3 linked regions of the Homo sapiens genome follow. The protein of the gene in region 3 purifies or fractionates together with the protein of the main gene of each other region. This does not show direct contact. Each region holds a gene or a part of one and is shown on either strand. Other genes may lie near its edges. The genes, in order: POMK, TCTN2 and SLC47A1.

Region 1 (7,172 bases), on a different chromosome or scaffold from region 3:
CCCAGCTAATTTTAGTATTTTAATAGAGACGGAGTTTCACTATGTTGGCCAGATGGTCTCAATCTCCTGACCTCGTGATCCGCCCACCTTGGCTTCCCAAAGTGCTGGGATTACAGGCATGAGCCACCATGTCCGGCCCATGCAGGGAGAGCTTTCTAAAGCACGGATCTGATCCCACCTTGCTTAACATTCAACAGCCCCCCACTCGGCCCACAGGATCAAGTCCAAACTCTTATGTGGCCTCCTGAAATCTAGCCCCTATCTGCTTCCCTAAACCCTCCCTGCACCACACTCTCTGGCCCCTGAGCTTTCCTCAAAGGCTCCCTTTCTGGGATACCCAGGCCCCGGCTTCCTCTAGATTCTGAGCACCAAGAAGCCTGCCTGCCTGTCCTGTTCACCACTGCACCCCAGTGCCTGGCACACAGCGGGTACTCGGCAAAGACGCACCAACTGCCTGGTCACTCTGCACCTCTCCCTCTTCATGGCCTCAGCCGCACAGGCTGCTTTCCCTCTCCTGTGTTCGCTCCACGGAATCCGCTCTTCCTCTCCTCACGGCTCCTGTCTTCTGAGGACCCTCATCTGCCACCTCCTTCTCCAATCCAAGTTTCCCAGCTCAAACCCTGCGATAAATCCTTTCAACCCTCCAACCCTCCTTACCCCTAACCTCCCACCAATCCTTCCTTGCCACTAGTGGATTCAGGTTTTATGGGGCCTGAAGCTTATACAAGTTGGGGCAAGGAGTGGTAATTCCTTAAGAGAAGAATAGTTATGAATGTAAAAGTGCTGAGCCTCTTGCCAGAGTTTTGGCAAGAGGATTTGTGCAAGGTTTTGGAAGGTATTTGTGCAAGTGAAGAGGCTAGAGGCTTCATCATAAACCCAGATCTGCTTGTCATTCACCAGACCCATGTAACTTGCCCTGTCCACTTCTTCATTTCCACTCAAAGGCTGCCAACATCAGCTACAAAACTCTGTGGGACTCTAGAAATGCATATTTTCTAATCTCTCTTGGACCCTCAGCATTACTCAGAAAACCTTTAATGCATTTCTTGCTGAATCCAAATTTCATATGCCCCAAAAACCTTTTATATATCCCTAAGTCCTCACATTCACTTCTGAATCCTCTCTCGGCAAAAACAAACCAAACCAAACCAAAACAAAACAAATAAAAAAAATACCCCAAAATTCATTTGACTTTTATACACTGTCAACTTCACACCAATTCTGTGAAGTGGATGTAATTGTTGTTATTCCCATTTCACAGATAAGACAACTGAGTCAGAGGTGAAGTAATATATCTAAGGTCACTGAACTATACACAGAAGAGCCAAGTTTTCTGGCCTCAAGCCCATTCTTCCCCTAAATACCGCAATGCTCGGGAGTTGAACTAAATCAAACCCAGCGTGGTCAGCTAGGGGCTGGGCTGGGGTACCCTGGGACTGCCGGTTTCTTAAAGAAGACTTCAGCCCACCTCAACCCCGATTTGCTTTTTTGTTTCACAGGCATATTCTGGAGTAGGCCGCCCAGAGCATAGCATGAGGCTGTGTGGCTAAAGGAACTTTCGTGTCCAGAAGTAAGCAAAAACCACTGAAATTTACTGGTCCTGAAAACAGCCTGCACATTAAGGAATAAAGATGGTGGGGCAGGTTGGGCAGAAGAAATTCAGGCACGACTGAAATGCAAAGCATTTCTGACACTGATAGGAAGGCTTATTGATAGAGAAAGGCTTGGGACCCACTGCTCCACATTTACAGCTTAAAAAGAAAAGAAAAGCAAAGGGACAAAACTAGTTTTTACCGACTTACAAGATATTTTCTACAACTAGGGAAGACACAGAGTAATGTCATCCAATACAGTTTAGAGTAGAATTCCATTGCGCCAATAAAGCACAAGGTACATTAAGAGGATTATTTTAAATATTCTGAACGCTTATTTAGCCTTAAGGTTCTATAGCAAAGGCAAAGGGTGGCAAAGACAAGATTATGCAACAAAACAGCGAAATTTTGCTTTCTAAAAAAAAGAGAATATGATTACACTTAACACCTCCTGGCAACAATGATCTCGTGCAGAATAAACACCCAAAGGCAAAGAGCTGAGACAGAGTCCTCGGTCCTTTCTGGTTTTTTTGTTTTTTGTTTTGTTTTGGTTTGGTTTGGTTTTTGTTTTTTTAAACAGAGACAGCCTCTGCCGGACCCAGTAGCTCACGCCTGTAATCCCAGCACTTTGGGAGGCAGAGGCGGGCGGATCACCTGAGGTCAGGCGTTCGAGACCAGCCTGACCAACATGGGGAAACCCCGTTTCTACTAAAAATACAAAAATTAGCCGGGCGTGGTGGCGGACGCCTGTAATCCCAGGAGCCAAGACCGCGCCACTACACTCCAGCCTGGGCGACAGAGCGAGACTCCGTCTCAAATAATAATAATAATGATAAAGTAATAATAATAGAAACAGCCTCTCACTCTGGCCCCCAGGCTGAAGTGCAGTGGCGCGATTTCGGCTCACTGAAACCTCCGCCCCCGCCGGGTTCAAGCATTCTCCCGCCTCAGCCTCCGGAGTAGATAAGACTATAGGCGGCGCCACCGCGCCCGGCTAAGTGCTTTTTTACGGAGACAGAAGTTCCGCCATGTTGCCCAGGCTGCTCTCGCCTGAGCTCACGCGATCCTCCCGCCTCGGCCTCCCAAAGCGCTGGGATTACAGGCTGGAGCCACCTCGCCGGGCCCTTCTCTGGTTCTTTAACGTCCCGCTACCGCGCAGGGGTGGACGCGGAGATAGGGGCTGGGCGCGGTGGACACGGCCGCTCAGGCCCAGCGCAGCCTCCTAGGGAGCCTCCGGACAGGCCGCGGGCAGGCGGCCGGGGCTGCGGGGGGTGCGGCCCAGGCCACGTACAGGGTCCCCCGGGAAACCCAGCTGCACGCCCCCTCGCCCCTTCGCCCTCTCACCCCTCGCCGCAGCACCTACCTGCAGCCCAAGCCTCTGCGGCTCCTGCCACCCCGGGCCAGCACGCACTGGGCCTACTGCGCTTGCGCGTTCGGAAGCGCGTCCTGGGCGGGTGAGCGTGGCGCTGCTGCCCCCTGGCGTCCTCCTCCGGCCGTGCACTGAAGCCGGAGCGAACGCCGCGGCGGTACCAGCGCGCACCTACCCAGTCTCCCTGTCTGGCTTCTGCTTCCCTAACTTGGGAGAACGATTTTGTGTTGACCGACTATTGCTTCAGCCTGGAGCCAGGCTCATGCAGAGCAGCTGTCAGATCTAGACGCACTGCGAGGCCTTCCAAAGCGTAGTCCTCAGACCCGCGGCATCTGCAGGGACCTTGCTGGAAAGGCTGATTCCCAGCTCCGGCCCAGACCCGCCACTCGGGGACCCAGATGCCTGAAGTTGGACAATCGCTCTGTAAAAGAAACTGTGGGGCTTAGCCTAGACGCAGTAAAGCTGAGCTGCACACATCAAGCGCAGCAGACAAGACCTTGGCAAGCCTCCGCGGAGGGGCAGGACTGGGCAAAGGCGGGGAAGTCCGTCGAGGGCCGGCCAGGAGCCCTGCCGGGAGCCCAACACGCACTCGGGCGCTTGCTCCGGGAAACCGAAAGGGAGGCTTGCAGCATCGAAGTCAGCTGGGTCATGGAACGTCTAGGTTGTGTACATCGGAAGCGTTAGCTGCTTCTACACTGACACACTGCGAAAGTCCAGAATCAAGACAGTAACATGGTGTGGGTTAAAAAAACTGAGCCGGTACTAGCTATCCAAACAGTATTAAAATTAACAGAAACGTTTGCCTATCACATGGACAAACAGCGGTAATACCTCCTGTCGTTACAGTAGAGTCTGAAAGTTTCCTCACACATACAAGTGAGTGTAAATTGGAATTCCTCCTACGTGCCCTAGCAAATCCATTTCTAGGAATTTATCCTTCAGAAATAACGTCTGTGGCCGGGCGCCGTGGCTCATGCCTGTAATCCCAGGACTTTGGGAGGCCGAGGTGGGCGGATCACGAGGTCAGGAGACCGAGACCATCCTGGATAACACGGTGAAACCCCGTCTCTACTAAAAATACAAAAAATTAGCCGGGCATGGTGGCGGGCGTGAGAATGGCGTGAACCCGGGAGGCGGAGCTTGCAGTGAGCCGAGATCGCGCCACTGTACTCCAGCCTGGGTGACAGAGCGAGACTCCGTCTCAAAAAAAAAAAAAAAAAAAAAGAAAAAGAAATAATATGTCTGCAAGATGTATGCACAAGAGATCTTGCTGAAGCATTGCTGATAAAAGATATTTATAATAGAGAAAAAAAGAAACCTGAATGTATAACAATAGGGGTTTCTGAAAGAAATTATATTACATCCACATAGCCATGAAAAATACTAACGGGTGCACAGTTTCAGTGTGAGAAGATGGTAAAGTCCTGGAGATGGATGGGGGTGATGGTTGCACAACAGTGTGAATATACACCAATAAATTGGGTGGAGGCCGAGAGCTCGGGGCCGTGAGCAAGCCTCCAACGCTCCGGTCCCCCGGACCCGCCTTTTAAACTCTTATTCTAATTCCTTTGTCTTCGCTGGACTCGGGGTACCCGCCGGGTGGTGTGGGGCTGGTTTCCCCAACAACTTCACTCTAGCCTGGGCAAAAGAGCAAAGCTCCGTCTCAAACAAACAAAGATAGAAACCAACCAGCAGCTCTCCTTGCTGAGTTCTTTGCCACGTGGCCACCATTTTGTGCCCACAGGCTTTTTGGGGGTGCTGGGAAAAGGTGAAATTTTAACACTGATGAAAAATTAGAGGAATTAAATTCAAACAAAAAATTAAAAATAAAAAGAACAGCAGAATTTGACGCACCATCAAACTGGTTGTGTCACCCATCTTCAAGCTGAAGGTAGTCCAAAGCCTGGAACTGAGTGTCGGGGGCACACACAGAGACTCGGGAGAAACCCTCTGATTCTGGCTCGTGGAGCAGAAAAGGAAACTCCTAACCCTCAGAGGGAGTGAAGAAAATTCCCTGTTCTTTCTATTTTCTTCTTTTCTTTGCACTCCAGCCCCCAGTCAAGCCCAAGGCCAGAGCAAAAAGCTTCAGCAGCCAAAAGTCTGAGGGAAAGAGATAGTCCTTTCCATTCAGTAGCACTGCAGCTCCAAGAGGACAGACACAAACTTGGTGTTTTGTTGTTTTTAACTGTTTCCCACTGCTGTGGCACAATTGTGGAAGTGGGCAGCTCCCCCAAGCCAAACTGAAAGTGGGAAGTTTCAGACCAGCGCACTGAAACCTGAGGGAACCTAAAAACACTGAGAAGATAGCGGAAGGTGAGAGCATCTGGCAAGCAACCTCACAGAGTTGTTTTTGAACTCTTGGGCTCATCGCTGACCTGCGTATCATCGACTTAACGAGCACACCAAACACTCAGAGAACTGTGCTCATGAACAGATTTTTGTTCAGGTACCAAACTACGGGAGGATGCAGCCACGAGACAGATCCAAATAGCCCCACAGAGGGTATGAACACAGAACTCACTTTGGAACATGAACCCCAGAAGAAGATCGGAACCTGCAGGCTGTCCCTAACTAGTTCATGTGCTTGCTTAAATTAAACTGTTGGCCAGGCGCGGTAGCTCACACCTGTAATCCCAGCACTTAGGGAGGGCAGATCACCTGAGGTTAGGAGTTTGAGACCAGCCTGGTAAACATGGTGGAACCCGGTCTCTACTTAAAAAAAAAAAAAAAAAAAAAATAGCCGGGCATGGTGGCGGATGCCTGTAATCCCAACTGCCCGGAAGGTTGAGGCACAAGAATCACTTGAACCCAGGAGGCAGAGGTTTCAGTGAGCCCAGATCACAGCACTGCACTCTAGCCTGAGTGACAGAGCAAGACTCCTTCTCAAAAAAAAAAAATTAAAATGCCAACATTCTCCATAGGATTTAAACAAGAATTAGAGCCTCATAATATTCAAAATGCTCAGGATACAAAATTGCTAGGCATATGAACCATCACAAAAATCTCAACTTGCATGGGAAAAGATAATCAAGAGTCACCAACTATAAAATGACTGTTAGGATTATCTGAAAAAGACATTAGTTATGAAAATGCTCAAAAAATTATAAACATTCTTGAAACAAAAGTTAAAATAGAAAGTATGGGGCTGGGCACAGTGGCTCGCGCCTGTAATCCCAAGACTTTGAGAGGCTGAGGCAGGCGAATCACTTGAGATCAGGAGTTCGAGACCAGCCTGGCTAACATGGTGAAACCCTGTCTCTATTAAAAATACAAAAATTAGCCGGACATGGTGGCAGGTGCACTCAGGAGGCTGAGGCAGGAGAATCGCTTGTACCTGGGAGGTGGAGGTTGCAGTGAGCCGAGATCGTGCCATTGTACTCCAGCCTGGGCCACCGAGCGAGACTCTGTCTCAAACAAATAAAAAATAATAATTTTAAAAAAGAAAGTATGAGTAAAAAACTTGGAGAAAGTAAGAGGAACCAAATAAACATTTAAAATAGAAAAGTACAATAATCAAATTTTAAAACTCACTGGATAGATTCAATGGCAGAATGGAAATGACAGAGGAGTCAGTGAACATGAAGACAGATTAATAGAAATTATCCAAACTGACCAACAGAGAGGAGGGGAAAATTAATAAAACTTCAAGCACCTGTGGGACATAACAAAAGGTCTAATATTTATGCCATCAGAATCCCAAAGCAGATGAGAAAGAAAGCACTAAAAAGCTTTTGAAGAAATAATGGCTGAAAACTTCCCAAGTTTGGGAAAGAAACACCAACCTACAGATTCAAAAAACTGAGCAAACCCCAAATGCAATAAATCCAAAGACATCCATGCCCAGACACATCAAAATCAAACTGCTGAAAAATAAAGACAAGGAAAAAAAATTGAAAACAGCCAAAGAGAAATGCCACGAGCTGTAGGTGACCCACAATCCTAATGACAGTGAATTTATCCTCTGAGATCATGAAGACCAAAGTGGCACAACGTTTTTCAAGTGCTGAAAGAAAAGAATTGCAAGCCCAGAATTCCATATGCAGTGAAAACATCCTTCAGGAATAACCTTGAAATAAACTAAGATGAAGGAAAACTAAGAGAATTTGTAGCCTGCAGACCTACTCTAACAGAACTGCTAAAAGAGTTCTTTGGTGGCTCAAGCCTGTAATCCCAGCACTTTGGGAGGCTGAGGCGGGCAGATCACCCGAGGT
Region 2 (7,931 bases), on a different chromosome or scaffold from region 3:
TATCTATTAGGTCCATTTGGTCTATAGTGCAAATTAGGTCTGATGTTTCCTTGTTGATTTTCTGTCTGGATAATCTGTCCAATGCTGAAAGTGGGAGGTTGAAGTCTCCAACTGTTATTGTACTGGGGTCTATCTCTTTCTTTAGCCCTAATAATATTTGCTTTATATATCTGAATGCTTCAGTATTGGCTGCATATATGTTTACAATAGTTATATTCTCTTGCTGAGCCTCTTATTATATAATGACCTTCTTTACCACTTTTTTTTTTTTTTTTTGAGACAGAGTCTCACTCTGTCACCCAGGATGGAGTGCAGTGGCATGATCTCAGCTCATTGCAACCTCCACCTCCCGGGTTCAAGTGATTCTCCCACCTCAGTCTCCCGAGTAGCTGCAATTACAGGCACCTGCCACCACGACCAGCTAATTTTTTTTTTTTTTTTTTTTTAGGCAGAGTCTCGCTCTGTCGCCCAGGCTGGAGTGCAGTGGTGTGTTCTCAGCTCACTGCAAGCTCTGCCTCCCGGGTTCACGCCATTCTCCTGCCTCAGCCTCCCAAGTAGCTGGGACTACAGGCACCTGCCACCATGCCCAGCTAATTTTTTTGTATTTTTAGTAAAGATGAGGTTTCACCATGTTAGCCAGGATGGTCTCAGTTTCCTGACCTCGTGATCCTCCCACCTCGGCCTCCCAAAGTGCTGGGATTACAGGCATGAGCCACCGAGCCCAGCCTAATATTTGTATTTTTAATAGAGATGGGTTTTCGCCATGTTGGCTAGGCTTGTCTTGAACTCCTGACCTCAGATGATCCACTCACCTTGGCCTCCCGAAGTGCTCGGATTGCAGGTGTGAGCCACTGCGCCTGGCCTCTTTTTTTTCTTTTTCTGTGGAGATAGCATCTTGCTGTATTGTCCAGGCTGGTCTTGAACTCCTGGGCTCAAGCAACTCCTGGGTTCCTCTTGCCTCGGCCTCCCAAAGTGTTGGGATTACAGGCATGAGCCATCACACCTAGTCTTAAAATCTATTTTATCTGATATAAGTATATAGCTACTTTTGCTCTTTTTTGGTTTCCATTAGAATATCTTTTTCCATCCCTTTATTTTTAGTCTATGTGTGTCTTTATAGGTGAAGAGTTTTTATAGGCAGCTAATCATTAGGTCTTTTTTTTTTAAATCTATTCAGCCACTCTATGTCTTTTGATTGGAGAGTTTAGTCCATTTACATTCAATGTTATTATTTATAAGTAAGGACTTACTACTGCCATTTTTAAATTTGTTTTCTGATCTTCCCTTCCTCCCTTCCTTCCATCTTCCTTTTTATGAAAGTGATTTTCTCTGGTGGTATGTTTTAATTTCTTGCTTTATATTTTTGTGTATCTGTTGTAGGCTTTTTGATATGAGTTTAGCATGAGGCTTGCAAATACCATCTTATAACCCATTATTTTAAACTGATGACAACTCTGATTGCAAAAACAAGCAGAGAAAACTAATACTCTAACTTCATCCCTCTGATTTTTAACTTTTTGTTTCTACAATATTTATATCTTATTATACTATGTCTTAAAAAGCTGTAGTTATTATTTTTGATAGGTTTGCCTTTTAGTCTACTACTCAAGATATGAATAGTTTACATATTTGTAGAGGTGCCACCTTGGTGATCTTGGGTACGATCTTGGAGAATTCCCTGGATCACCGTTAGCAGTGACGAGTCTGTACAGGTCTGCAGCAACTCGATTCTTGCCTCCTCAGAGGAAAGAATTTGGCCAAGCAGCATAAGGCAGAGTGAGAGACCAAGGCAAAGTTTAAAGCAGGGGTAAACGTTTATTAAAAAGTTTTAGAGCAGGAATGAAAGGAAGTAAAGTACACTTGGAAGAGGGCCAAGCGGGCGACTTGAGAGATTCAAGTGCCCCGTCCGACCCTTCACTGGGGGTTTCTATACATTAGCATGGTTCTGAGGTTTGTGCCCTCCCTTGATTTTTCCTTGGGGTGGGCTGTCTGCATGTCAGTGGCCTGCCAGCACTTGGGAGGGGCCGCATGTGCAGTGTGTTTACTGAAGTTGTGCGCATGCTCATTTGAGGCATTTTCCTTTACCAGTCGAGCCTTCCCAGAGGAAGGTTATATACCAGTTAAAATCTGCCATCTTGCCTCTTACTATGTATGCATGAGCCTGCTTGCCCAACTCCTGAGATCTTATCGGGAAGCTGCTGATCACCAGCTTCAAGTGTTTTCTATCTTTTTTTTTGAGATGAAGTCTCACTCTGTTGCCCAGGCTGGAGTGCAGTAGCGCGATCTCGGCTCACTGCAACATCCGACCCCTGGGTTCAAGCGATTCTCCTGCCTCAGCCTCCCGAGTAGCTGGGAGTACGGGCATGCGCCACCACGCCCAGATAATTTTTGTATTTTTGGGTAGAGATGGGTTTCTCTGTGTTGCCCAGGTTGGTCTTGAACTCCTGGCCTCAAGTGATCCATGTGCCTTTGCCACCCAAAGTGCAGGGATTACAGGCATAAGCCACCAAGCCCGGCCCAGAAATGTTTTCTTTTGGGAGGATTTATCTCTTAATCTTTACCGCTTGGCCTTGCCAACTTAATTTGCAGATTAATTCCCCCCAAAGACAGATGGGGAATAACAGAAATATTTAAGTGTTTGACAGCTTCCTCTTAGTAACGTTCTCCTAGGCTTCATTCCAAGATATCAAGAGAGGTAAACATTTTGCAGTCTTCCAGAGAGGAGCTGAGGTACACGGGAAAAGTTTCATGCTCATGTTACAACTGTAGTGACCCACAGTTTTTCAGGGAGTATAAGAAAAAGATAACACCCAGTGTCAGGCCCTTATAAAGCCTCAACTTTCAGAATCCTTTCACAATGTTAGATTTGCTGATCAATGAATATATAACTGAACATTAAGAGTAATAATGGGGCTGGGTACGGTGGCCCATACCTGTAATCCCAGCACTTTTAGAGGCCAAGGCAGGAGGATCACTTGAGCCCAGGAGTTTGAGACCAGCCTGGGCCACATGGTGAAACCCCGTCTCTATAAAAAATACAAAAATTAGCCGGGTGTGGTGGTGTATTGCCAGTTACTTGGGAGGCTGAGGTGGGAGGATCAGCTGAGCCCAGAAGTTTGAGGATGCAGTGAGCTATGATTGTGCCACTGCACCATTCCAGCCTGGGTGACAGAGTGAGACCCTGTCTCAAAAAGAAAAAAAAAAAAGACTAATAATGGCAAACATTTACTTGGCATTTACCGTCAGTCAGCCACAATGCTGAACACCATGATTGTCTCAGCTAAAGGATACACCACCTCTCTGATAGTTAACAAGTAACTGATCATTAACTGAGTGCTTACTGTATGCCAGCCATTGGTTTAACCTCATTAGATATGTTACCTCATTTCATCCTCACACAATCCCCAAGGAAGGATTATTATCATCCCTTTTTTATAGATGAGGAAGCTGAAACTTAGAGAGGTTGACTTGCCCAAAGTCACTTAACAGCTGAGAATATCTGTGGAGGGAAGGCGAAATCCCATGCCAGGCAGCCTGACCTCAGACCCTGCACTCTCAGTCCCCAAGCCGTGACAATATTTGAAATGTTCTGAGGCTACTGATATAAGAAAAAACAATTTTTTTCCAGACAGAATTTTGATTCTTTCACATCTGTCCTATTGCTGGGCAAAACCTCTTGTGTGTTCTGTGATTGGATCTGCTTTCAGAGTGCTGAGAGCTCTGTGCAGGGGAGAAAATCCTTCAAAAACCTAGGAGAATGATAATAAAAGCAATAGTGATAATAAATGATAATGATAAGAATTATAAAAATATAAATTTTATAAAATTATAACATATAAGTATAAAATTTACAAAATATATACTTATATAAAAGATAAATATATATAAGATAAAATATAAATACATATATATTTTATAAGATAAATAAATAAATAAATATATTTTTGAGACGGAGTCTGGCTCTGTCGCCCAGGTTTGAGTGCAGTGGTGCAATCGCGGCTCACTGCAACCTCCGCCTCCCAGATTCATACAATTCTCCTGCCTCAGCCTCCTGAGTAGCTGGGATAATAGGCGCCTGCCACCACGCCTGGCTAATTTTTTGTATTTTTAGTAGAGACGGGGTTTCACCATGTTGATCAGGCTGGTCTCAGACTCCTGACATTGTGATCCGCCCGCCTCGGCCTCCCAAATTGCTGGGATTACAGGCATGAGCCGCCAGACCCGGCCTATATGTATTTTATATATATCAAGTATGTATATCTGATATATATATATAAAACAAAGTATATCTATTTTGTAAATATATATTTATTTTATAAAAATATAAAATATAAATAATACATCATAAACGATAGTAAAGATAATAAACACAGCGCGGCAGCCCCATCCCCTTTTTCTACTCACCCCTAAAACAAATCCGTATAAAAATCAAGTTTATTAAGGAGCAAGTCCCACCCTTTTTATTTAGAAGCCAGTGTCTATAGGATCGCTCTTGGCTATTGTTGGATTAATTCCAGGGTAGGGGAAAACTCCAGTTTTTGAGCCGGACACGCACTCCTGCTTTTCAGGACCTTTTTAATTTTGATGTTTTCAACTTTTAGGCCCAGGGGTCCATGTACAGGTTGCTATATAGGTAAATTGCGTGTCACGGGGGTTGGGTGCACAGATTGTTTCGTCACCCAGGTACTAAGTGGAGCACCGGATAGGTAGTTTTTCAGCCCTCACTCTCCCCACCAGAGTCAAGCAGCAAAAATGCTAGGCCTTGTGGGCGGGGCCGGGGTGCCCGCTCTTGCCACTGGTCCAATCACAGCGCGGCGTTCCTCCTGGCCGGCCGCCGATTGGTGGTTGCCATAGCTCCGGGCGTTCGCTTGCAAGATGGCGGCGGCGGGGCAGTGGCTGCTGCGTTTTCGTGTCTGAGTCCTTCCTGGGTTCTAATGAGGGCGCGGTTCTGCTGTGCCCGGCCCGCGAGGTCTAAGGCATGGGCTTCCAGCCTCCGGCCGCTCTTCTTTTGAGGCTTTTCCTTCTGCAGGGCATCCTGAGGCTTCTGTGGGGGGACCTGGGTGTGTACGGCGCGGCAGTGACCTCGGTGGGCCGGGGCTGAGGGGACTGGGCGTTAAAAGGGCCAGACTTGGACTCCCCCGGGAGCTTCGGGAGTCGACAACGCCAAAGCAAGCCGCCACACACACCTTAGGCGGTGATTCTTCCACTGCTAACCCCTCCTTGTCCCCTTTCCTTCCCGCCTAGCTTTCATCCCTCCTTTTATCCGAATGTCCGGCCCTGCGGTCAGCGCGTCCCTGGTCGGAGACACCGAGGGTGTGACCGTGTCCCTGGCAGTGCTGCAGGACGAGGCGGGTAAAGTCCGGCCCTCTTTTGGGGAGGGTGGGGGTTGGACTGGATCCAGACCTCCCAAGGAGCCTGGAGAGGTGGCATCCTTGGGGCCCCCTGCCTCTGTTCTCTGCAAAGTCGCATGGGGAGAAAAGGATCGGGCGGCTGCTGTAGGCCAAAGAGGACAGACGGACAGGTTCGAAGAAAGCCTGAAATAATAATGGTTAGCATTCATTGAGCTAACATCGTGCATCATCCCATTTTCCTAGTAAGAACAGTAATATCTTTTCATCCCCTTTGACCAAGGAAGAAACAAGTTCAGAGAGGTTGTCACTGTCCCAGTGTCAAGCAGCTTGTAAAGGGCCCAATCTTAGGCTGTAATGTGAGTCCATCCTAGGCAGTCTGACTCAATGCACCCCCTGAGCTGCTGGACCTTGCTGCCTTTGCATGCTGGTCTTCTTTCTTTAGGAATATTGCCAATTCCGACGTGTGGAGTGCTGAACAATGAGACGGAAGACTGGAGCGTGACTGTGATCCCCGGTGCGGTAAGGCCAGAAGTAAACCTTCTCTGTAGCCTGTGAAGAGGCCCCCAGCTAGGGTTTCTGCAGTGCTCTCTTTATTTAACAAGGCATGGCTTTCTCCATGCTCTCAACAATCATGAAATTGTGGGCTGTTGGATCTGGTAGACACTTATCCAGCCCACGGGTTCCTTACCCTGGGGTTAGGAGTCCTTGGATGTATTTCAGTGGGTCTGTGAACTCTATGAAATTGTATGTAAAGTTCTGTGTGTATGTGCATTTTTCTGATGAGAGGGTCACCAGTTTCCTTTAGATCATCAAATGGGTCAGTGATTCAAAAAAGCTTTATGCCAGGCATCGTGGCTCACGCCTGTACTCATAGCGCTTTGGGAGATTGAGGCGGGAGGATTGCTTGAGCCCAGGAGTTCCAGACCAGCCTGTAACATAGCGAGACCTCGTCTCTACAAAACAATTAAAAAAAAAATTAGGTGGGTGGCGTACACCTACAGTCCCAGATACTTGGAGGGGGGTGGGGTAGCTGAGGCAAGAGGATTATTTGAGCCCAGGAGTTCAGGGCTGCAGAGAGCTATGATCGCACCACTGCACTTCATCCAGCCTGGGCAACAGAGCAAGACCCTGTCTCTTAAAAAAAAAGAAAAAGCTGGTCAGGCGCGGTGGCTCACGCCTGTAATCCTAGCACTTTGGGAGGCCGAGGAGGGCGGATCATCTGAGGTCAGGAGTTCAAGACCAGTCTGGCCAACATGGTGAAACCCATCTCTACTAAAAATACAAAAATTAGCTGGGCGTGATGGCGGGTGCCTGTAATCTCAGCTACTTTGGAGGCTGAGGCAGGAGAATCACTTGAACCCGGGAGGCAGAGATTGCAGTGAGCCGAGATCACGCCACTGCACTCCAGCTTGGGTGATGAGCGAGACTCCGTCTCAAAAAAAAAAGCTTCATAACCACTGATCTTGCCCAACTCTGAGCTTATGTGTAAGGATACTCAAACCTGGAGAGATTAAGCATCTTCTATTTAATAAGTGTTTATTGGATACCTAGTATATGCAACATCAATTCTGGAGAGAAAAGGACAGGAAAGACAAGCTCTGCTTGTACCCCAGGAGTGAACATGTACATGTCTAAAGTCATTCTGGGATAAACTGAGGATTGTTTTCATTGACTTTTTTTGTGTATTTACTCTTCCACTGATAGGATGATAAAGAAACTAAAAAGGTGTACAATAAACTGAGTTTATTTATCAGATCTGTGTTTAGCTTTCTCTAAGTATCCCGAAGTTGTTTGCTTTTATGTTAAGGAAGAAGAATCAGGGCTTGCATGTTACCATAGGTTTATGGGGGGGAACTGAAGATAACTGTGTCATCTCTGTATACATTTCCCTTTTATAAAATGAACGGAGGCTGATGTGTACTTTTATTGTGTTTTCCATTATGTATTCTTATAGACCCTGTTTTGAGTCACTTTAAAAATACAGCAATGTTTTCCTTTCAGAAGGTGTTGGAAGTGACAGTGAGGTGGAAGAGAGGTCTGGACTGGTGTTCCTCCAATGAGACAGATTCCTTCTCAGAGTCCCCCTGTATCCTCCAGACCCTTCTGGTTTCAGCATCTCATAATTCATCCTGTTCAGCACATCTACTCATTCAAGTGGAAATTTATGCCAACTCTTCTCTGACCCATAATGCCTCAGGCAAGTGAAGTCTTTGACTGTCAAAACTTTCATGTTGTTCCCAGCTACTTAGGAGGAAGAGGTAGGAGGATTGCTTGAGCCCGGGAGGTTGATGCTATAAATGAGCTGCCCGGGAGGTTAATGCTACAAATGAGCTGTGATCGCGCCACTGCGTTCCAGCCAGGGTGACAGAGTGGGACCCTGTCTCAAAAAAAACCAAAAACAAAAACAAAAAAAGAAAAATTTGTGTCAAGCTTACCTGTTTGATTATAAGTGTATGCCATGCAATTTGTAAAGTATACTTCACTTGAGTCTGTCTTGCTTTTCTAAACTTATTTTTCTTTTGTTTAGTTTTCTTTTAAGAAATTTCATTTTGTACTATTTTATTTAACATTTATTTGATC
Region 3 (7,104 bases):
GGATGCACACAAGTATCTTAACAAAACATTTGGAGACCATAAAAACAACATCAGGATGACTTTGATGCATCCCACATTTCTCTCCAGTTCTAATTCTTGTCCTGAAATTGGATTTTCCTGCACAAGGGTGACAGCCTGGCATGGGAGACAAGGAAGAAAGGAGTCCCCTGTTTTTCTGGGAATAGATAAAGCCAGGATCATCTGGCCCTTCACATCTGAACTGTCTAGTTAAAACAACAAGAACAATAGTATTCATGAGATAAGAATAAAGAAAATGAGAAAAGAACTTTCCAAAAGAAAAAAGGGAGAGCCAGATCAGATCCTGTTTTTCTAGGAGAGGAACCTTTACCGGGACAGAATGAACATAGTTACCTGCTGACAGGCTTTTTTCCAATTTAGCTGAATAATAAAGCCTAGAAAACACACAGCTTGAAAGACTGTACAGATGATGATCCCTGACCACAGACCTAGAAATAGAAATATTTAATAGAGGTTAATTCCATAGAAAACCAGCTGCCCCTGGGGAGTATGTTTTGCCTATATCACTTCTGTCAGCCATACTGAATATCTGCTTTCATGGCTGAGGTGGAGCCCACAGCGGGCCAGAGACCTCTATCCTGCTCCTCCTCAGGCTTCCAGAAGGTTCCAGAAGGTTCTGGAAAGCCCAGTACTCCTTGAGGCCACCCCCAAAAGGGCCATCTCTTTTGGTTCAGGATTTCGGAACAAATATTCAGAGGATATTTTTGGCCTTACTGATTATAATGCTTGAATATTAAGAAAAATGCCAGTTATAAGGAAATTAAAATTTCCCAGGACCAACTACTTCTGCCCTGGTTTCCTCAAAAAAGGGGACTAACATTAAAAAAAAAAAAAGCAGAAATCACTAGCCATATAAACTACTAATGTTCTCTTCCTCAGAGTTCCTGCCAGACCTTGGACCTTAACTTGCTTCTGACACAGACTTTGCTAGAAGCTTCCAGAGCAGGGCTGAGCACCTACAGATGACTGGAGAACACCAAAGGCAGGCCAGGTGGGAATGGATGGCGGGAAAAGCCCTGTGAATCTCAAGGCACCACACAGGGCACAGAGGGAGACCCCAGGTGAGGAGGGTTTTTTGGTCAACAGTAAACTAATGGCAGAACCAAAAGCTCCAACAATAACCAAGAGACAAAGTCCTGACCGTAATAAAAACAGACCTCTGCCTCACAACCTGCAGCACCCTGCCCAAGAAACCCCACCCCATCTACAATAAACCCAGGAAGCCAGCCTTCCCTAAATCAGACTTGCAGGAAGCAAGATCGCTGCCTTTGGTAACAATCCAGGAAGCTAACCAGTAACTTCTGTAACGATTGGCCCCAGATGGCCAGGACTTGATTAGCAACTGACAGCTTGCCTAATTTTGGTCTGCACTTCCAACTTAGGACCAACCAGAGAAAGTAAAATACATCCCCCTAACCAATCACATGGGAGGCCCATTTCTAGTCAGCCACCTCCAGCATCCCCCAGATCAACAATCTCCACTCAGGACACACCTGCAGCCTCCCCTTTTATCCACTGTGACGCTTTCCCACTCCTTTGCCTGCCTTTGAGTTTCTGCCCAAATGCAAGTGGTGGCAGCCAACACCCTTGCTGAGAATACACAGACTTTGCTTGTCTTGCTTGGTTGGTCCTGGTTTATTTCCACAGCTGTCCAGATCTATGTAAGGGTTAAGGTGGCTAGTCTGGGTTCCTGGTTTATGGATTCGGTACAGGTTTTACAGCTCTGTTTCTTGGTACCAATCACATTTTTCAGGTATGATCAGCCTGCCCTTTTGTTTGTTTGTTTGCTTTTTAGAGTCAGGGTCTTGCTCTGTTGCCCAGGCTGGAGAGCAGTGGCATGACCACAGCTCACTACAGCCTCCAACTCCTAGAGTCAAGTGATCCTCCTGCCTTGGCTTCCAAAGCACTAGGATTATAGGTATGAGTCACTACGCCCAGCCTAGCCTGCTCTTAGAATAGTATAGTTGGTGCCACCTGCTAGTCCTATAAAAAATTAGTAAAAGCAAGCTACTGGCTTCCTCTTTCAAATCCAGTGTTCTCAGTACATAGAAACTACAAGCTCACCTGAACCACCTTAAACAGGAAATAACCAGCTAACTCCAGCTATAATTTGAAAGTTATGAATTAGATTTCCAATAATTTTAGCATACATCATTTAAAAGATTTCTATTTGACCCAACCTATGAGCCCAAAGTGGGATGATTATTAGATCTCATGGGCAAGGCCCAGGAATTTACATATTTAAAATGTCTCCCAGGGATTCTGAGGGTCATTATGATTTCCTGAGGTTGCTTCTGAGAACCTGCAGAATTCTGATGCTCTCCTAGACACCTTGTATAGGTATACTGCATACCATACCAGGAGACACAATACTCAAAACCAATTCGTACCACAATTTCTTCTAATAGGTGGGTGGGGGGGATTGACTATAGGCTTCTCATAGAGCCCTCACATCCCCAGGGCCCCCACCATTTCTTTTCAGTGATTCTCAACTTCCTCTTCTACTTTGCACAATTAGTTACGCTTTTTTTTTTTAAGGTAGAGTCTCACTCTGTCGCCCAGGCTGGAGTGCAGTGGTGCCATCTTGCTCACTGCAGCCTCCGCCTCCCGGGTTCAAGCAATTCTTGTGCCTCAGCCTCCCAAGTAGCTGGAACTACAGGCGCACACCACCACACCTGGCTAATTTTTGTATTTTTAGTAGAGACGGGGTTTCGCCAAGTTGCCCAGGTTGGTCTCAAACTCTTAACCTCAAGTGAACCACCCACCTCAGCCTCCCAAAGTGCTGGAATTACAGGCATGAGCCACTGTGCCTGGCCTAGATATATTCTGTTAAATGAATAGGTGAGCCAAGGACGGCACTTGGGATACAGATGGATTTATATTTCAAAGCAGGTTCCTCATGCCTGTAATCCCAGATACTTGGGAGGCCAAGGTGGGAGGATCACTTGAGTCAAGGAGTTTGAGACCAGCCTGGGCAACATAGCAAGACCCCATCTGTAAAAAATGAAACAGGAGAATAAAGTAGACTCCTCTTCTAAAAAAGTTGAACTCATAGAAGTAGAGAGTAGAATGATGGTTAGCAGGGACTGGTGGCAAGGAGGGGAGGGCATGGGAATGGGGAGTTGTTAAGGTACAAATTTCTGATAGACAGGAAGAATAAGTTTTGAGATCAATTGCACACCAGGGTGACTGTAGTCAATGTACTGCACATTTTGAATTAACTAAGTAAATTTCAAATGTCTCACCATAAAAAATAAGTGGTGATAAGTATGTTAATTAGCTTAATTTAATCATTCCACATTTTATACATATATCAAAACACCACACTGTACCCCATAAATGTATACAACTATAATTTGTCAATTTAAAGTTTAAAAGATATAATATAGAGAATTTAAATTATTTCCTTAATATTTTATACTGATTGCACGTTGCAATAATTTTAGACATATTGTGTTACATAAAATACATTACTTTAAAAATAAAAATAAATTAGATTTCTATAATATTTGCATTAGCTAGGCAATTGGCAAATCCAAACTATGAATCGCACCAGAAACTCAGCTAAATAATTTTCTGCACTATCATGCAAGCCCAATGAACTTTGCATTGGCAATACTATTCTTTGAACAACTCCTGTATTTTTAATTAAAATATTATTGAACTTGAGAAAAATGTGCCACATAAAGGAACATACTGAACTGGAAGTTCCCTGTAGGTATCAGTTGACTTCTCACCACCTCTGAGCCTGCCAAGTACAGATGAATCAAAACAAGCCACGCTTTAAGTCAGTCACTACTCACCCCAAAGATAAATGTCCAGGTTTTCATATCATCATTTATTAACTGCCAATATGTTCCAAATTATTATTTTAGAAATCAAAGCTGGGCAGTCATTTATTTCCGTACTTTTTAAAAAGATTAGCTCTGGTAATTTCAGATGCTGTGGATTAAGTTTTTTCTTCCAAATGTGGGAAGGTGCTCAAGTCCGCCCCCTTCCTTCTGTGCTGTTCACACCGACCACGTGTATGGCCTTGTGGGGAGCTCTGTGGGGGCACAGAGCTAAGGCTGCACAAGGAGGGAGGTGGAGGCTGCGGAGTGCGATGAGGGTGATGAGAAGGGCACTGGCCACCCATTGCCCTCCAAGGATCCAGCCATGCTGCTTGGTGAGCACATGGGGCACTGCTCTAGGATGCAGAGTGCCACCGTGAGTGCAGACCCTGCAGCACCCCACGCACGCAGGACCGCCTACGATAGCCCTGGCCCTGCAGAGTCACCCTCAGGGGCTCACATGCTGTCTCTAAAGAACAGCACGAAACACACTAAGGGGATGCTTCCAAATGCTTCTTCAGCGGTCCCTGCTGTTGCCTCCTTTAGAGAAGTGAGGGCTGGATGACTCAGGATAGGAGGTTGGTAGAAAGGGCATCTGTGCTCAAGTGTGTCAGCGTGGAAGATCGCCCGCAGGGGTGTGAGGGGCAGGACCACATAGCCTTGGGGCCCTGGCTAGAGCTGGAGGTCACCTCCTGAACGCCCCCTACACTCTCTGACAAGACACAGAATGGACGTGGGCGAGCTCCCGAGTTTCAGAGGTGAGCCTCAGTCAAAGACCCGTGTGCTCCGACGGTCATTTCCTGGGCTGGTGAGCAGCTAAGCCCTGCCTGCAGAGGTTAGAGCTTACCCATCACTCCAAGTGTGGTTGCAAACATCAGCGCGATCCCGATGGGGAGGCCAACCACATAGTACCCAATGGTATTCACAATGGCTCCAACCTTCTGATTTCCACTCCCCCTCAGAACACCACCACTCGTGCACTGCAGGCAGAGAGCATTCCATCACTGTGAACACATCCGGCGCTCTTGAAACACTCCCATCTCCCGAGCACTTCATATTCTGTGCTAAAATCCATGGTAAGGTGACAGTATCCTTCTAAACGAAATGTGGTAACAATATTCAATCTTCCTACCTATGCTGGCCCCTCCTCTCAGCTGAAATTTACCACCATCAGAAGATCATAACAGTGCTTAGGGGACTACTACATAATACTTACAGCAAGAGCTTCAAAGAGGTGGGAAACAGCATAAATTGGAACCACCTGAGCCACCAGATTAATGATGTCTCTGTTAGGAAAATAAAGCACGTGGTGATTAGGAGACAAAGTGGAGAAAGAAGTATATAGCTTTCTGGCTAGGCGCAGTGGCTCATGCCTGTAATCTCAGCACTTTGGGAGGCTGAGGCGGGAGGATCACCTGAGGTCAGGAGTTTGAGACCAGCCTGGCCAACATGGTGAAACCCCGTATCTACTAAAAATATAAAATTAGCCAGGCCTGGTGGTGGGTACCTGTAATCCCAGCTACTCAGGAGGCTGAGGCAGGAGAATCGCTTGAACCCGGGAGGCAGAGGTTGCAGTGAGCTGAGATCTCATCACTGCACTTCAGCCTGAATGACAGAGCGAGACTGTCTTAAAAAAAAAAGTATATAGCTTTCTGCATATTACAGACATGCACATGCATTGAGGCCAGCAGCCTAGTCAGGGACAGTTCACCTGTTGCTGGGTCCATAGAGGAAACTAACTGCATGTTGTATCTCACAGCTTTTAGAAAAAATAGGCAGCACCACACCCTTGTCTTCAAGAGATATGTTTCAAGTCCCCCAGTGGATGCCTGAAATCGCAGAGAGGACTGAACCCTAAATACATTGTGTTTTCCTTATACACAAATACATTATGATAATGTTAATTCATAATTTGGGCACAGTAAGAGAGTAACAACAGTAGTAATAAAGTAGGCCATAACCACATGCCAGCATCACTACTTTTGTGCTTTGGGATTACTAGCACTGTGATACCAAAACAGTCAATCTGAAATAACTAGCGGGTGGAAAGCACACACAGCGTGGAGATGTTGGACAAAGGGATGATTTCATGTCCCAGGCGGGACGTGAGATTTCCTCCTAATACTCATAACCGCACGCAATTGAAAACTTATGAATTGTTTATTTCTGGAATTTTCCACTTAAGATTTTCAGACCACCAGGCACGGTGGCTCACGCCTGTAATTCCAGCACTTTGGGAGGCCGAGGCGGGCGGATCACAAGGTCAGGAGATCGAGACCATCCTGGCTAACATGGTGAAACCCCGTCTCTACTAAAAATACAAAAAAATTAGCCGGGCGTGGTGGCGGGCGCCTGTAGTCCCAGCTGCTGGGGAGGCTGAGACAGGAGAATGGCGTGAACCTGGGAGGCAGAGCTCGCAGTGAGCTGAGATCATGCCACTGCACTCCAGCCTGGGCGACAGAGCGAGAGTCCATCTCAAAAAAAAAAAAAAAAAAAAAGATTTTCAGACCAAAATTGACTGCAGGTGACTAAACCTTGGAAAGCAAAACCAAGGATAAAGAGGGGTTACCGCATAGTCCATCTGGTCAGTGTAGACAAATCAAGGGATTTGGTGACATCCCTCCCCCGTTCCCCATCAGCTGAAAAGAAGTTTGGCTGGGCACAGTGGCACGCACCTATCATCCCGGCAAGTTTGGATGCTATGATCATCCTTCTTTTAAGATGATGCCACAGGCCAAGTCTGACTGTGTCTCCTAGTAAGCCTCAGTGAAGCACTACAGAGTAAAAATTAAGTTCCCTCTATGGAACGAAGGTTGGTAAAGGCCATAGATATATTCTGCAGAATTATCCTTGGTTCCTAGAAATGGAACCCCTAAAGCTAGAGACTTGGATTCTAACCTCTGCATGTGAAGGGAGATGAGAAAAATGCTGCCCTGACCTGGGGAAGCAGGAAATTCACAACACCCTTGGAGTGAGTTTTGTCACTCTAAACTAGAACCTAGAAGACTGTCTCCCAATAAATACTTGTTTAATTACTAAATAAGAAATCCAGCACTGGCCCAGGAGTGGTGGCTCATGCCTGTAATCCCTGCACTTTGGGAGGCCAAGGCAGGCAGATCACCTGAGGTGGTGAGTTCGAGACCAGCCTGACCAACATGGAGAACTCCCATCTCTTCTAAAAATACAAAATTAGCAGGTGTGGTGGTGCATGCCTGTAATCCCAGCTACTCGGGAG

What was found.
Region 1: the proteins of SLC47A1 (region 3) and POMK purify together in Homo sapiens (affinity purification with mass spectrometry; 3 studies listed by BioGRID and IntAct, with this or other methods). This does not show direct contact.
Region 2: the proteins of SLC47A1 (region 3) and TCTN2 purify together in Homo sapiens (affinity purification with mass spectrometry; 3 studies listed by BioGRID and IntAct, with this or other methods). This does not show direct contact.

The regions. Positions count from the first base shown.
Region 1 is NC_000008.11:43,089,347-43,096,518, reverse strand, and holds the start of POMK (protein O-mannose kinase), read right to left. Parts: upstream 3,005-7,172; 5' UTR 2,956-3,004; intron 1-2,955. UniProt on the Homo sapiens protein: Protein O-mannose kinase that specifically mediates phosphorylation at the 6-position of an O-mannose of the trisaccharide (N-acetylgalactosamine (GalNAc)-beta-1,3-N-acetylglucosamine (GlcNAc)-beta-1,4-mannose) to generate phosphorylated O-mannosyl trisaccharide (N-acetylgalactosamine-beta-1,3-N-acetylglucosamine-beta-1,4-(phosphate-6-)mannose).
Region 2 is NC_000012.12:123,666,263-123,674,193, forward strand, and holds the start of TCTN2 (tectonic-2 isoform 1 precursor), read left to right. Parts: upstream 1-4,850; 5' UTR 4,851-4,978; coding exon 4,979-5,060; intron 5,061-5,244; coding exon 5,245-5,352; intron 5,353-5,793; coding exon 5,794-5,870; intron 5,871-7,352; coding exon 7,353-7,548; intron 7,549-7,931.
Region 3 is NC_000017.11:19,564,841-19,571,944, reverse strand, and holds part of SLC47A1 (multidrug and toxin extrusion protein 1), read right to left. Parts: intron 5,156-7,104; coding exon 5,086-5,155; intron 4,850-5,085; coding exon 4,717-4,849; intron 1,101-4,716; exon of another isoform or gene 468-1,100; coding exon 373-467; intron 1-372.